Linked DNA regions of Homo sapiens: region 2 is linked to region 1. Evidence: fine-mapped expression QTL. Tissue or cell type: whole blood. Region 1 holds a variant in brackets; the other region holds the start of a gene. All regions are shown on one strand. Distances are between the middles of the regions.

What was found. PIP is the estimated chance that this variant, and not a neighbour inherited with it, causes the effect.
Region 2: THEM4 starts here. The variant in region 1 is fine-mapped to the expression of THEM4 in whole blood (TOPMed, PIP 0.94).

What each region holds. Positions count from the first base shown.
Region 1 is chr1:151,869,018-151,877,123 of GRCh38, reverse strand. THEM4 (thioesterase superfamily member 4) reads left to right here. Exons shown (of 6, transcript NM_053055.5): 5 at 1-123; 6 at 2,196-6,258. The coding sequence ends at 2,236. Among named protein-coding and RNA genes, the nearest start is that of THEM5, 19 kb to the right of the region's middle. The variant G/A (reference allele first, on the strand shown) is at 4,075.
Region 2 is chr1:151,905,782-151,913,887 of GRCh38, reverse strand. It overlaps THEM4 (thioesterase superfamily member 4), which reads left to right and starts at 4,377. Exons shown (of 6, transcript NM_053055.5): 1 at 4,377-4,528. The coding sequence starts at 4,430. RefSeq lists enhancers at 3,405-3,992, 3,981-4,100, 7,092-7,631 and a silencer at 4,341-4,650.

The DNA.
Region 1 (8,106 bases):
CTATCCCTCTTTGTTCTGTTGTTATGATAAATAGCCAACTTGATAAAGTTGAAGGAAGGAAATTTTTTGTTTCCTGTAATGTTCAGAGTGTTGATGAGAAGACCCTATACTCAGAGGCGACAAGTAAGAAGCTGGTCTTATCTCTTTCTTGGGGTTTAGTTGGGTTGGGTTGGGAGTTTTGGTTGGTTGGTTGGTTGGTTGATTTGGGTTTTGTGGGGGTCAGGGGGGTGTTTTGGTTTGGTTTGGTTTTTTGCCCTGGTATTATAACCCATACATGCCAAAAAATTCTTAATTCCCTGTCATACAAAGAACAAGTTAAAGATATTCTTATACATTGCTAGTAAAGGGCAAGTTGCCAACAGCTATCAAAATTACAGCCCAATGCATAAGCTCATGCCTGTAGTCCCCGCACTTTGGTAGGCTAAGGTGGGAGGATCACTTGAGCCCAGGAGTTCGAGACCAGCCTTGGCAACATGGCAAGACCCCATCTCTACAAAAAATACAAAAAATTAGCGGGGCATGGTAGTGTGCGCCTGTAGTCCCAGCTACTTGGGAGGCTGAGATGGGAGGCTCCCTTGAACCCAGGAGACAGAGGTTGCAGTGAGCTGAGATCGCACCTCTGCACTCCAGCCTGGGTGACAGAGCCAGACCCTGTCTCAAAAAAAAAAAAAAAATTTACAAAGTGATATGCCCTTTGACCCACCTCCAGGACTTTATCTCACAGGTATAATAACTGCAAAATTATAATGTGTTAGATTGCTATCGGGTTCCAGTGATTGTGTCACTCATGCAACATTATTTGCAATAGCAAGAAAAATGGCAAAACGTAGCAAACATAGCTATCCATCAATAGGAGACTGGTTAAAGAACTACAGCTCACCTATGAACTATATTGTATGTGTGTGCCATTAAAAAATGGTGAAATATTGTGATACCATAAATAAGAAAAATATGTCTATATTTATGTGTGTGTAGACTGTCTCAGGAAAGTCACACACATGACCTGTTACTTCCCTGGAGTACTGAGGTTCATCCATGTTGTTGGCTGTGTTCACTTGTTTGTACCACTGTGTAATACTCCATATGTGACTGTCCCACAATGAATGTCTCTCTTCCAGTGACAGGCCTCTGACTATTACAAATGGGGCTGCTATAAACATTCTTGTTCATGTCTCCTGGTGGTGTGCATGGGCAAGAGCTTGGCATATACTTAGGAACAGAATTTCTGGGTGGTAGAGTATTGTGAGTATTCAGCTTTACAGAGGAATGCAAAATTGTTTTCTAAGCCTGTACCAAATTAAACTCCCACCAGCAATATATGAGATTCTTTAGATTCCCATCTTCTCTAGCAATTAGTGAAGTCAGACTTCATGATTTTTGCCAGTCAAATGACTATAAAATGACTTCTCGGTGTGATCTTGATTTGCATTTCTCTGATTACCTGTGTGGTTGAGTGTCTCTTCATATGTTTATTGACCATATTTTTTCCCATTCTGTGAAATTTTTGTTTGTTCAGCTTTTTTTCCATTTGTTCTCATTTTCTTACTGATTTATAGATGTTCTTTATATATTTTCTATTAGAACAATTTTTTGTTGGATATATAAGTTGCACATACCTCCTTACAGTGTGTAAGTTGTCTTTTATTTGCTTTAAGGTATCTTCTTTATGAACAGAAATTTTTAATGTCAATTTAGTTGCATTTATTACATTTTTCCCTTTATGGCTAATTTTTTTGTATCTTGTTTAAGAAATTTATTTTTCCTCTTAAGTATGAAGCATTTGCAGGAATGATGGATTTAAGGAGCAGGTGGAAGATAATAACTTAAATCCACAGTCAATTTAAGAACTCCATTCCAGGCTGTGGTTTGTACTTCCTGTCTCACTAAACCTTTCAATATCATAAAGGTGCCAGATGGCTCACTTGTAATTTTAGTTCTTTTCATTTCTAATGGAAGTAGTGAGGAACCATGAAATGGCCAAGTGGTGAGGACCTGGTTACCCAGGGAGAAGTAATACAGTATTGTGATAGTCAAAAGCTGATTCTTAATTTGGCTGAAAAATGAGAGTGGACAGATAGACTGAAGCTACAAATGTGAATCAAATCCTTCTTTTGTATATGTCTTTCTATTTAGAGTAGTCCATCAAATTGAAGTCAGTTGACATATAATCATCTGCTGTTATTTTGTTTGTTTAGGCTTATTTATAAAGCTGAATCCTGCTAAAAGTCTGACATAAAGAGCTGCTGGTGAACTCCATCTCATTCTCGCCCCTCCAGAAGAAGCAGTTGTCCCCCAAATACTCTGCTCCCTCACTGCTGAATCCCTGTAGGGAGAAGCCTGCCAACAGTGACCTTCCGAAACAGCCTTCTGAATACAAAGAGGATTCAGTTTCCATCTTCTCAACTTTTTAACACAGAAATACTTCCTGCGAGCATATCGACAACTCTCGGGCCAGGCGCTGTGGCTCACACCTATAATCCCAGCACTTTAGGAGGCCGAGGCAGGCGGATTGCCTGAGCTCAGGAGTTCAAGATCAGTCTGGGCAACACGATGAAACTCCGTCTCTACTAAAATACAAAAAATTATCCAGGCATGGTGGCGTACGCCTGTAGTCCCAGCTACTCAGGAGGCTGAGGCAGGAGAATTGCTTGAACCCAGGAGGAAGAGGTTGCAGTGAGCCAAGATCATGCCACATCACTCCAACCTGGGCAACAGAACAAGAACCCATCTCAAACAAACAAACAAACAAAAAAAAAAAACTCTTGTCTCCTTAGGATATGTTACCTGCTCCACTGCAGACTAGAGAAATAAATGTGTATTGAACCTTTTACTGCAAACTTGAAAATGCTAGAAAACCAAGCATGAAGAATAAATACATGGTGGGAAACACACAGGCATGTGCATATGCATATACATTGTAAGTTAGTAAGTTAGAAAGCTAGCTTTGTTGTATCTGAACACATGAATCTTTTTTGGTCAGTGTAGGAAGCACAGCCAGATCCTATAGGAATGAATACCTCAAATCTGTTGTCTGAGATTCTAGAGATTAAACCACTGTGCCATTTTTAACCCAGGCTGTACTGTTGTTTCTTACCAACAGCATAGGTTTTCATCACTGGAAGGAGCCTGTGTTCATTTCCTAGGGCTGCTGTAGCAAAGTAGTACAAACTGGATTGTTTAAACCAACAAAAACTCATTGTCTCTCAGTTCTGGAGGCCAGAAGTTCAAAATCAAGGTGTTGACCAAGGCCATTCTCCTGAAAGTGCTAGGGAAGGAGCTGTCCACGCCTCCCTCCTGGCTTCTGGGAGCCTCAGGTGTTCCTTGGCTTCTAGATGCATCATTCCAGTCCTCCATCTTCACATGGCATTCCCTCTGTGTGTCTCCACAGTGTCTTCCCTCTGTGCAGATCTATCTCTGTGTCCAAGTCTCCTCTTTTTATAAGGAAACCAGTCATAATGGACCCACCTGAATGACCTCATTTTAACTTGATTACCTCTGTAAAAAATGTATTTCCAAATAAAGTGACCTTATGAGGTATTGGAGATTAGGACCACAACATACCTTTTTTGGGAGGACACAATTCAACCTGTAAAAGAGCCTCAACAAAACTAAAAAATGAACGGAGAGTTGAAGGGGGCCAGCCCCTCCACACCTGTGGGTGTTTCTCATCAGGTGGGATGAGAGACTGAGAAAAGAAATAAGGCACAGAGACAAAGTATAAAGAAAGAACCCTGGGCCCAGGGGACCGGTGCTCAGCATACAGAGGACCCGCACCGGCCCCAGTCTCAGCTCTCTCAGTATTTATTGATTACTGTTTTCACTATCTCGGCAAGGGGAATGCAGCAGGAGAACAGGGTGATAGTGGGGAGAAGGTCAGCAGGAAAATCTGTGAGCAAAGGAATCTGTGTTACAAATAAGTTCAAGGGAAGGTACTATGCCCAGATGTGTACGTAGGCCAGATTTATGCTTCTCTCCACCCAAACATCTCAGTGTAGCAAAGAGTAACAGCAGCATTGCCGCCAGCGTATCTTGGCTCCAGCCACAGGGTGGTTTTCTCCTATCTCAGAATGGAAC[G/A]AACATAGGATCGGGTTTTACACCAAGACATGCTGTTCCCAGGGGCATGCAGGAGACAGAGGCCTTCCTCATCTCAACCACAAGAGGCCTTCCTCTTTTACTAATCCCCCTCAGCACAGACCCTTTGCGGGTGTCGGGCTGGGGGATGGTCAGGTCTTTCCCTTCCCGGGAGGCCATATCTCAGGCTGTCTCAGTGGGGGGAAACCTTGGACAATACCCAGGCTTTCTTGGGCAGAGGTCCCTGCGGCTTTCCACAGTGCATTTTGCCCCTGGTTAATTGAGAATGGAGAATGGCGATGACTTTTACCAAGCATACTGCCTGTAAACATACTGTTAATGAGGCACGTCCTGCACAGTCCTAGATCCCTTAAACCTTGATTCCATACAGCACATGTTTCTGTAAGCACAGGGTTGGGGCTAAAGTTACAGATTAACAGCATCTCAAGGCAAAGCAATTTTCTTAGAACAGATCAAAATGGAATTTCTCATGTCTTCCTTTCTACATAGACACAGTAACAGTCTGATCTCTCTTTTCCCTACAGAGACTAATGTTCTGGAAAATATATTCTGCTTCCTAGTGCAGGCAATAGATTATTTGGGCTTCCATTTCTTTCCTTTCTTTCCCCATATTAGAAATTTAAGCTGAACCATATGAAATCACTATTTCGAAGAACAGAATGGTCAAATATTGACAATTTCCTATGGTTCAACCTAATAACTTAGGGACAGCCTTGTGGTACCCTACCCAGTCATCCTTCCACAGCCAAAAGATCAGCTGGAGCCCTCCATTGCCAGAGCTGACTGACCTGGGATGGCCAAGCCAGAGGAAGACCCACATCCTGGAAGCCCTGTCTCTAGTGCCCAACTCCAGTTCTCAAGTTGCAAGGGCCCAGCAGACATGGGGGCACTGCAGGGGTGAAGCTGGCAGTTCCTTCTCCCAGAAATTCTGAGAGAGCCTGGGAAAGTGCCCCAGGAGATGGCTGGGCTCACAGCTCTACAAGTTACAGGTCTGGCAATGGCCACCCTCTATTCCCAGTCTTCCAACAAATCCTGAAACTTAAGAGAGTGGACTCTTACAATAATTATATTTCACATGTTAAAAAATATGACTCCGAAGGAATAAGCCAGCGCTGCTCATTTAGCTAGTTTCACTTAACTAGTTGGGAGGAAGTTTAGACAATGAAGGTACTGTACTCTCATCGTTAGATTTCTCTGGCAGGCTTGCAGAACTGCTATGGCACACCAGACCTCCAGCCAAGTGAAAGAACCTAACTGAAAGAGTGCCAAATGACCAGGTTTTCTTCATGTTAAGTATGCCTGCCTCCCTTCGTATCCACTTTTTTCCCTTTACAGTTTCATTTCTTACACTGGTTTGCTCACATCCAGGTTAGATGCTGCACAAGATCAACTAAGGAAAAAGCTCAGTCACTGTTAACATAGGGTTCCCCATAGCCAGTGAGGGAAAAATGGCTTCCCTGCTTTGCAGCAGACTATTCCTAGCCTTCACCATGCCCTGGCACTCTTGCTTTCCTCAGGTTGTATTTTGACAAGTATGTAAGATAACAAAAGGTGGCAGAACAGGTAGAAAGAAGGAGAGAGATGCTATCAGAATTGCCAGCTCCACTCCATCACTGGCTTGCTGTGTGACCTAATGGAACTATTCCTCATTTCCTGTTTCCTTCTTTTTCCTTTCTTTTTTCTTTTTCTTTTTTTTTTTTTTTTTTCAAGACAGGGTCTGGCTCTGTCGCCTGGGCTGGAATGCAGAGACACAATCTCAGCTCAATGCAACCTCCACCTCCCAGGTTCAAGCGATTCTCCTGCCTCAGCCTCCCAAGTAGCTGGGACTATAGGCATACACCACCAAACCCAGCTAATTTTTGTATTGTTTGTAGAGACAGGGTTTTGCCATGTTGCCCAGTCTGGTCTCAAACTCCTGGGCTCAAGTGATCTGCCCACCTCAGCCTGCCAAAGTACTGGGATTACAGGCATGAGCCACCTTGCTCAACCTGTTTCCTTCTTTATACCAAGTGCTAACATTTTGAATGAATATTAGGAATTGATGCTGGTTAGTGCTAAAATATCTTTAAACTATCAGTGTAAACATAATTAGGCCGTGAGTTTTTGCTCTTACTCCCAGGTTTCTAAATGTCTAAGAAACAATAAAATGAGAGTCATGTACAGAAATATATTGTTGGAAGAATTTTTTCAAAAAGCAAAATAAGATTAAGTTTTTTCTCTAATGGGAAGATGGAATGAAATATATAAGTTAAGAAAAACCTTTTCTTCTGTATTAAGGAAGCTCATATCCTACATGTTCCTATGTTCCCTATCCCATTACCTTCTCAGGACGCTTAACCTCTTCTGGGGACTTATGAAGCCAAATTATTGTCTTACCTAATGGATGACCATCATGGGACCCTAGTCAAACATATTTTTCAGGACCAAGTATACAACATCCTCTGTGATGGAGACAATGAGGCAATCTTTCAAATTTAAGTCACTAAAGTCATGAATTTTATGTCTCAGAAAAGTTTGAAATTTCACTTGATAGTATTCTTGGTCTGGCACTACTCTGGCCAGTTTAGAATTACAGAATTGGTTTATTCCTTCTCAATTATAGATTTAAAATTAAGTGGACTGCAGACAAAGATACCATAAGAGGAAAAAAAAAGTCAAAACTACAGATCAATATCCCTTACGAGTATAGATGCAAAAATACTCAACAAGATAACAAGCAAATCCAATAGCACATTAAAAAGATTATATGCTATGACCAAGTGAGATTTATCCCAGAAAGGCAGAGGTGGTTCAACATAAGAAAATAAATCAATGTAATACACCACATTTATACTTCAAGAGAGTAAAACCACATGATCATCTCAATTGGTGCAAGGAATGGCATTTGACAAAATCCAACACCCTTTCATGACAAAAAGCACTCAGAAAACTAGGAATAGAAAAAGACTACCTGAACATAATCTAGAAAAATGCACAGCTGGTATCACACTCAGTGATAAAAGACAGAAAGCTTTCCCCTAACGTTAGGAAAAAGGTAAGGATTTCCACCTTCACTACTGCTATTCAATATAGTACTGGAAGTCTTACCCAGAGGAATTAAGCAAGAAAAACAAAAACAGCTTGCAAATTAGAAAGGAAGATGTAAAATTATCTCTATTTGCAGATGACATGTCTACATATAGAAAATCCCAAAGAATTCACCAAAAAAACAAAACTAGCACTAATAAATAAATTCAGCAAAATTGCAGGGTACAAAACTTCATTGGCTGGGTGCGGTGGCTCAAGCCTGTAATCCCAGCACTTTGGGAGGCCGAGGCAGGCGGATCACAAGGTCAGGAGATCGAGACCATCCTGGCTGACATGGTGAAACCCCATCTTTACTAAAAATACAAAAAATTAGCCAGGCATGGTGGCGGGTGCCTGTAGTCCCAGCTACTCAGGAGGCTGAGGCAGGAGAATGGCATGAACCCGGGAGGCGGAGCTTGCAGTGAGCCGAGATTGCGCCACTGCACTCTAGCCTGGGCGACAGAGCAAGACTCCATCTCAAAAAAAAAAAAAAAAAATTCATCTTTTGTGCATTAAAGAATAATATCAGTGAAGTGAAAAAAAATCCCTACAGAATGGGAAAAATATTTGCAAATTATATATCCAAAAAGGTGTTCGCATTCAGAATATATAAGGAATTCTTACAACTCAACAACAAAGAACCCAGTTTAAAAATGGGGGAAGAACTTGAATGGACATTTCTCCAAAGAAGATATGGAAATGGAAATGGCTAACAAGTATATGAAAAGAGCCTCAACATCACTAATCATTAGAAAAATGCAAATCAAAACCACAATGACCACACCTACTAAAATGCCTATAATTTTTTTATTTTATTTTATTTTTTTTTTTTGAGATGGAGTTTCGCCCTTGTTGTCTAGGTTGGAATGCAATGGCGCGACCTGGGGTCACTGCAACCTCCGCCTCCCAGGTTCAAGTGATTCTCCTGCCTCAGCCTCCCAAGTAACT
Region 2 (8,106 bases), 37 kb before region 1:
CCTTCTTCCACTACTGAAAGGGAAGATGGACCCTTCACCCAGCCGGAGACTCATTTTGGTGCCTTGCCCCATGGATAACAATTCAAGAATACATCCTTTCCAAGAGTGAGACCTATGACAACAAATCCAAGAAAAATTCAGCAAGAAATATTAAAGCAGCTAGCATCACGCTGACATTCAGTTTTCTTATAAATGGAAGGTTTGAAATTTAACTTAAAATTTAGATGTGAAATGTTATCAGAGGTGCATTAATAAGTGCAATAATAAGAATACAAATATCTCATTATTTTAAATGGGCAAAATATTTGAATAGACGTTTCAATGAAGAAGATACACAGATGAAAAATAAGCCCATAGATGTCCTACATTATTCATCATTAGGAAAATGCCAATTAAAACCACAATAAAATACTTACACACATCTAGTTACAATGGCTAAAACATAAAAGATTGACCATACCGAAGGCTGGCAAGGATATGGAGGAACTGAAATCCTTATGCACTGCTGGTAAAATGATACAACAACTTTGGAAAAGTTTGGCAGTTTCTTAAACAGTTAAACATACATCTACCACATGATCCAACCATTCCACTCTTAGATATTTACCCAAGAGAAATGAAGGCATACATCCATACAAAGACTTGTACTCACAGCAGCTATATTTGTAATTCACAAAAACTGGAAATAAGCCAAATGGTCATCCATGGGTGAATAGAAAAATTGTGGTACATCCATACAATGGAATACTACTCAGCAATTTTAAAAAATAAATTCTCGACATAAGCAAAACATGGATGAATCTCAAAATAGTTATAGTGAATTAAAAAAATCCAGACCACAAAAAGTACATACTATATAATTCCATTTATATAAAACTCTAGAAAATGGAAATTAATCTACAGTGACAGAAAGTACTGTACGATAGAAGGGAGGATTTACAAAAGGGCATGAGCAAATTTGTGGGTAATATTTTGTGGCTCATTATCTTGATTATGGTGATGTTTGCATGAGTGTAAACTTGTATGAAAACATCCAATTGTATACTTTAAATATGTTCAGTTTATGTCAACTATCTCTTTTTTTTTTTTTTTTTTTTTTTTGAGACGGAGTCTCATTCTGTCACCCAGGCTGGAGTGCAGTGGTGCAATCCTGGCTCACTGCAACTTCCGCCTCCCGGGTTCAAGCAATTCTCCTGCCTCAGCCTCCCGAGTAGCCGGGATTACAGGTGCACGCCACCATGCCCAGCTAATTTTTGTATTTTTAGTAAAGACGGGGTTTCATCATGTTGGTCAGGCTGGTCTCGAACTCCTGACCTTGTGATCCGCCTGCCACAGCCTCCTAAAGTGTTGGGATTACAGGCATGAGCCACTGCCTCTGGCTTTTTTTTTTTTTTTTTTTTTGAGATGGAGTTTCGTTCTTGTTGCCCAGGCTGGAGTACAATGGCGCGATCTCGGCTCTCTGCAACCTCCACCTGACAGGTTCAAGCGATTCTCCTGCCTCAGCCTCTCAAGTAGCTGGGATTACAGGCATGCGCCACCACACCTGGCTAACTTTTTTTTTTTTTTTTTTTTTGAGACTCAGTCTTACTCTGTCGCCCAGGCTGGAGTGCAGTGGCGCGATCTTGGCTCACTGCAAGCTCCGCCTCCCACGTTCACGCCATTCTCCTGCCTCAGACTCCCGAGTAGCTGGGACTACAGGCGCCCGCCACCACGCCCGGTTAATTTTTGGTATTTTTAGTAGAGACAGGGTTTCACCGTGTTAGCCAGGACGGTCTCAATCTTCTGACCTCGTGATCTGCCCGCTGCAGCCTCACAAAGTGCTGGGATTATAGGAGTGAGCCACTGCGCCCGGCCTTAATTTTTGTATTTTTAGCAGAGACGGGGTTTCACCATGTTGGCCTGGCTGGTCTCAAACTCCTGACCTCAGGTGATCCACCCACCTCAGCCTCCCAAAGTGCTGGAATTACAGGTATGAGCCACGGTGCCCATCCTATGGCAACTACACCTCAATAAAGCTGTCTACAAAATTAAAGAATGGTGAGAAGACTATTAAGTTTCATACCATTGGCTTATTCGAAGCCTAGTTCTATCAAGATTGAACATTTGTTCCTTGCCTAAACCATACAAGCTTCAAACTCCTTCACTTCCATAGCCTATCAATCCTATTTCTAGACTGTAACCTGCCCTTCCTCTTCCAAATCTGACCAGACATTTTATATGTGCTGTCAACACGAATATCCCAGAGTAAGCCATGCAAGAGTGTGGATGACTTAACTAAATGCACTGCCGCTACTTGAAAAATTTAGAGTTAAAATTTAATGAAGTTTAAACTCAGTGTAACTGACCTCTAATTGCCCTAAGTCTAAGGTCTTTTAAGAAGCTGATAGGTGCCGAGTGCAGTGGCTCATGCTGGTAATCCCAGCACTTTGGGAGGCAGGCAGATCACTTGAGGTCAGGAGTTCAAGACCAGCCTGGCCAACAGGGTGAAACCCCGTCTCTACCAAAAATATAAAAATTAGCCAGATGTGGTGGCACGCGCCTGTAATCCCACCTACTCGGGAGGTTGAGGCAGGGAGAATCGCTTGAACCCTGGAGGCAGAGGTTGCAGTGAGCCAAGATCATGCCACTGCACTTCCAGCCTGGGCAACAGAGTGAGACTCCATCTCAAAAAAACAAAAGGAAGCTGTTAGGTGAGCTATTGGTACATTAATCATATAGACAATCTTAGCAGGGTTGAAGTCTATAGGTATTGATTGATTTGACTACACTGTAAATTGTAAATAGATGCAATTTTAAGTTACCTGAATAAACTTTTCTATTCATTAACAGTAGTCATCTCAATTTTAGAGATTTACGTTATGCTCGTGCCTCCATCTGCACGCACAACATGGGAAGACAACAGACACCAAAGATACTTTGGATTCTTGCTGCTAAGTAAGTATTCAAGCACTACGTGCACGTTGTTACAATTAATAAGGCAATCTGACCCCATCCCTGCCACCAGGAAACTGCAATACTATTAATATATTAAAAAGGAAGACAACTGAGATAAAGGGAATGTGGGAGGTTGGGGGGGGTGCTTAGGAGATATCAGAATACAACCTCTTAGAATTACAGAATCTCAACAACCATCCTTTATGCCTGATCTTCGGTTCAGTAGCTCTAGGATTCCAAGGGGCCCCTCCTAACTGCATTGCCTTCTCTCCCCAATTCCCTTTCTCTCAGAATGTTACACCTTCCCCCAGTTAATAGTGTAGGCTTAAAATGTATCTAGGTGTTCTTACCTACTGACAAACTGCTGGAGTTGTTCATGGGAAAGGAATCAAGGCAAAATATCTAATGCATTCAGGTCATTCGAGTTTTCTTTTTAATTTATTGCTTTTTTGAGATGGGGCATCAGTATGTTGCCCAGGCTGAAGTGCAATAGCAGTATCTCTGCGAGACTCTGTCTCAAAAAAAACCCATTAGAGTCTTCACCTTAGGATGGACTAGGGCTATGGCATACTGGTAAGCATTTAAAAATAAAGGGGTATGATGGCCCGGATTTGCATTATCTGAGTAATGGGAATACTCCAACCCAGTCCGATTTCAAGGTCCCAGTGAGGTTACTGAATTCGAAGCTCAGAAGGTATGCGCCTAGTATTCCCACCATACGAATACAAGCGAGGTAAGTAACCTCAAAAGCATCGATAACAGTAAAATAGTTACAATACCTGTTACGCCTTTAGTATCCATTACCTTCGTTTAATTTAACTGTCAGTTTACATAACAAAAGAGTCTTTTAAGGCGTAAGCGCGCTCCTGGGGAGGGTATGGGGCTGTTGGCAGGGAAAGCAGCTTTTCGATCGTATAAATGCTCTTTGTGCCCAGACTGCCCTCTATAAATCAGCACTATCAACCCTGTCCAGAGACTTGCCCATGACCTCCAAGAAAACACTTTATTCATACTACTCCTAGCGTGCGCTCCTACCCGCCCCAGGGACTTCAGTCTTCCGGGGGAGGGATAACTACTTGGGGACACGGAGCACTGCGTACGCCCTGGGTCATGTGGGAAGGATGACCGCAAAGCCTCCAGTCGGCGCGCGGGTTCCGGGGCTGAGGGGCTGAGGGGCCCAAGGCGATAACCGGGATCCGCTCCGGCCGCGCTCCTCTTGCCTTTGAGAAGCCCCGGAAGTGGCCCGGCTGTTGGCCGCAGCGGGAGGTCTTCGGAAAGAAAAGGCCGGAACCAGAAGATAGACTCAACAGCGATGCCCTACCCGGACCCCGCCGGCCTCACACCCCGGCCAGCCAGCCGCCAGTAGTGCGCACCGCCTCCTCCCCAAGCCCCGCCCTGCGTCCACCCCAGGGGTTAACTCGCACGCGCGCTCTTGTGGCGGAGGTAGAGTGCGCCGTCCAGGGCTAGAGCAAGCGCGGCCCCGCGGCCCGGAGCCATGCTGAGGAGCTGCGCCGCGCGCCTCCGCACGCTGGGGGCTCTGTGCCTGCCGCCAGTAGGCCGGCGCCTGCCGGGAAGCGAGCCGCGACCCGAGCTGGTGAGTCTGGGCACCCTCGGGCATGGGGCGGGAGCAGGACTCAGAAACACGCCTGCGGTAACAGAGCCTTCGATTGTTATCCATACCCCAACCAGCCAATCTCAGAATAAAAGCTCACCTGGGCACCACAGGGCAGCATAAGCAACAGGGGCCTAGGAATACAGTCCTGAGATTCAAACCGTTAGAAAAGGGATGGAAAGGTGACCCCGTTTTTTTGTTTTTTAAGAGACAGGGTCGGCAGGGCGCTACCTGAACTGCATAATTTAGTCTGTCTATTTATATTTTGACAACATCTGTATTTTACCAATAATATTTGAGGCTGTTTTTATTTTTCAAAGATTAAAGTGACGTGAACTAAAAGATACCACAGCTTTTATCTTCCCTTTAAAAAAATATTTGATCCAAACGCTTATCTTCCTTTAGGTCAATTAATTAGAGATCTTTTTATAGACATCACACACAACACATATATAACTACACAGACAGGCAGAAGAAAACCCAGTTGCCATAAGATCTTTCATCACAGGGAGAGGGATCTATCTGCTTTTAATTCCTGGGGTTCCATGAGGAAAACAGAGATCGCCCCTCTTATGCAGGCATTAAAAGTGGCAAGGCAAAATGGAGAAAAATAACTCAGTCGACCGCAAAGAAACACTTTTTCCAGCAAAATAAGGTCCAAGAAAAGGAAAACATAAAGGCCTTATAAATATAATTACAACTTAGATATCTACTTTTAATTAAGCTGAGCACTCCTTAAGAAAATTCTTTTAACACCCTTATTATCTAACTTTAGCTCCACCAAGCGGCCAATATTTCTGGCTTTCAAACTTTACTTAAAGGCTCAGAGAAAGGAAAATCCAAGGTGGTTGGTGGAGGGCAGGGGAATCGACAAATAGCGAAAGGGCATACAGATACCAAACCAGAAAGGACTCATTCCCTAAGCCAGGATGAATCTGGGCCATGCCGGGCTAAACGAAGCTATGCAATGGGGTTACAGGCCACGCCCCCAAGGACGTAAAACAAGATGGAGGCCTGCAGCGAAGTTTGCTGTGGAGCATACAGAAAGACATGCAAAACACACAGATTGGCTACAGCTTACGACTTACCTCACAAATCCTTTCGCACAAAACTTTACAGAAAATATAAACGGTAATCCTCATCATTCCCAAAAGAGCAAAACGTCTTCCAAAAGGAAAAGAAAAACCTCCTTTAAAAGTATACTGCTGATGGGTTGGAGAGGAGATAAGGATGCCTGGGGGAAGAACCTCTTATTCCTATGCAAATGGTTCCTCCACCAGAGAGAGGAGCTTAATTGCTGTGGGACAGAGCTAGACTCCCTGGAATGGGGAGGGGGAGACTGCAGGCACCTGGTAGGGAACGCCAGCCAGCCATGCCGGCGCCTTGGAGCCTGGGCAGTGGCTGTGGCTCATTTATGCCCTGTGTGGCTACTGGACACCACACACACATGCTGCAGACACCACCATGCACCCCAGCCAGTAAAGAAGTGGGGCCAGGGAGCTACCCCACCCAACTGTCTTGTGAGTGCACTGGTGACCATTGGGGTGGGTGTGGACCACCTCCAGTATCGTAAAAAGAAAAATAGGTGCCGTTGCTGTCCCCCCAAAAAGAAGAGGAATGCCATAAGACCAAAAGGCTCAGAAATGAAAGTGAGAGGTTTTGAGTCCCCATTTCACTCATCCTTCTGTTGCAGGAATGAAGGAGGACTGGAGAGGCCATGGGGTGAGACAGGAGAACTTTATTGAGTGCACTCAGACCCAGCGGACTAACATCCAAAAGCTGGGCCCAGAACAAAGACAGCACTTGACTTTAATACACACTTTTAAAAGGGGGTGGGCTAGCTTGAAACAAGCTTACAGTGGCGTGAAGCATAGTGGCGTGAAAGCAAGGATACAGAGGCAGCACAAAGGCAATTAATTCATCAAATTGTGACAGGTGCATAATTCAGGATTACATACTGTGTCGGAATTGATGGGTTCTTGGTCTCACTGACTTCAAGAAAGAAGCCACGGACCCTCGTGGTGAGTGTTATAGTTCTTAAAGGCGGCATGTCCGGCGTTTGTTCCTTCTGATGTTCGGATGTGTTCAGAGTTTCTTCCTTCTGGTGGGTTCATGGTCTTGCTGGCTCAAGAGTGAAATTGCGGACCTTCGTGGTGAGTGTTATAGCTCTTAAGGCAGCACGTCTGGAGTTGTTCGTTCCTCCCGGTGGGTTTGTGGTCTCGTTGGCTTCAGGAGTGAAGCTGCAGACCTTCGCGGTGAGTGTTACAGCTCATAAAGGCAGTGTGGACCCAAAGAGTGAGCAGCAGCAAGATTTATTGCAAAGAGCGAAAGAACAAAGCTTCCACAGTGTGGAAGGGGACCCGAGCGGGTTGCCACTGCTGGCTTGGGCAGCCTGCTTTTATTCTCTTATCTGGCCCCACCCACATCCTGCTGATTGGTAGAGCCAAGTGGTCTGTTTTGACAGGGCCCTGATTGGTGCATTTACAATCCCTGAGCTAGACACAAAGGTTCTCCACGTCCACACCAGATTAGCTAGATACAGAGTGTCAACACAAAGGTTCTCCCAGTCCCCACCAGAGTAGCTAGATACAGAGTGTCGATTGGTGCATTCACAACCCCTGAGCTAGACATAGGGTGCTGATTGGTGTGTTTATAAACCTTGAGCTAGATACAGAGTGCCGATTGGTGTATTTACAGTCCTTTAGCTAGACATAAAGGTTCTCCAAGTTCCCACTAGACTCAGGAGCCCAGCTGGCTTCACCCAGTGGATCTCGCACTGGGGCTGCAGGTGGAACTGCCTGCCAGTCCCACGCTGTGTGCCCACACTCCTCAGCCCTTGGGTGCTCGATGGGACTGGGCGCCGTGGAGCAGGGGGCAGCACTCATCAGGGAGGCTCGGGCCGTGCAGGAGCCCACGGAGGGCGTGGGAGGCTCAGGCATGGCAGGCTGCAGGTCCCGAGCCCTGCCCCGCCAGAAGGCAGGTAAGGCCCAGTGAGAAATCGAGCGCAGCGCCAGTGGGCCGGCACTGCTGGGGGACCCAGTACACCCTCTGCAGCCACTGGCCCGGGTGCTAAGCCCCTCATTGCGTGGGGCCGGCAGGGCCGGCTGGCTGCTCCGAGTGCAGGGCCCGCCAAGCCCACACCCACCTGGAACTCCAGCTGGTCCACAAGCACCCCGCGCAGCCCTGGTTCCTGCTCGCGCCTCTCCCTCCACACCTTCCTGCAAGCTGAGGGAGCCGGCTCTGGCCTTGGCCAGCCCAGAAAGGCGCTCCCACAGTGCAGCAGTGGGCTGAAGGGCTCCTGAAGTGCCGCCAAAGTGGGAGCCCAGGCAGAGGAGGCGCCGAGAGGGAGCGAGGGCTGTGAGGACTTCCAGCACACTGTCACCTCTCACTATGACCCTTGCTTATGCAGCCCAGGTGGCTGTTATCTAGGCTTGCTCAAAAGAGCCTTGCAAGTGCTTATCTCATAATCTTCACTATGGTGCCCAGACGGCCGCAGCCTAGGCCTACTCAGGCATGTCTTATAACCTTCACTGTGCTGTTTAGATAAAACAGAATACTTG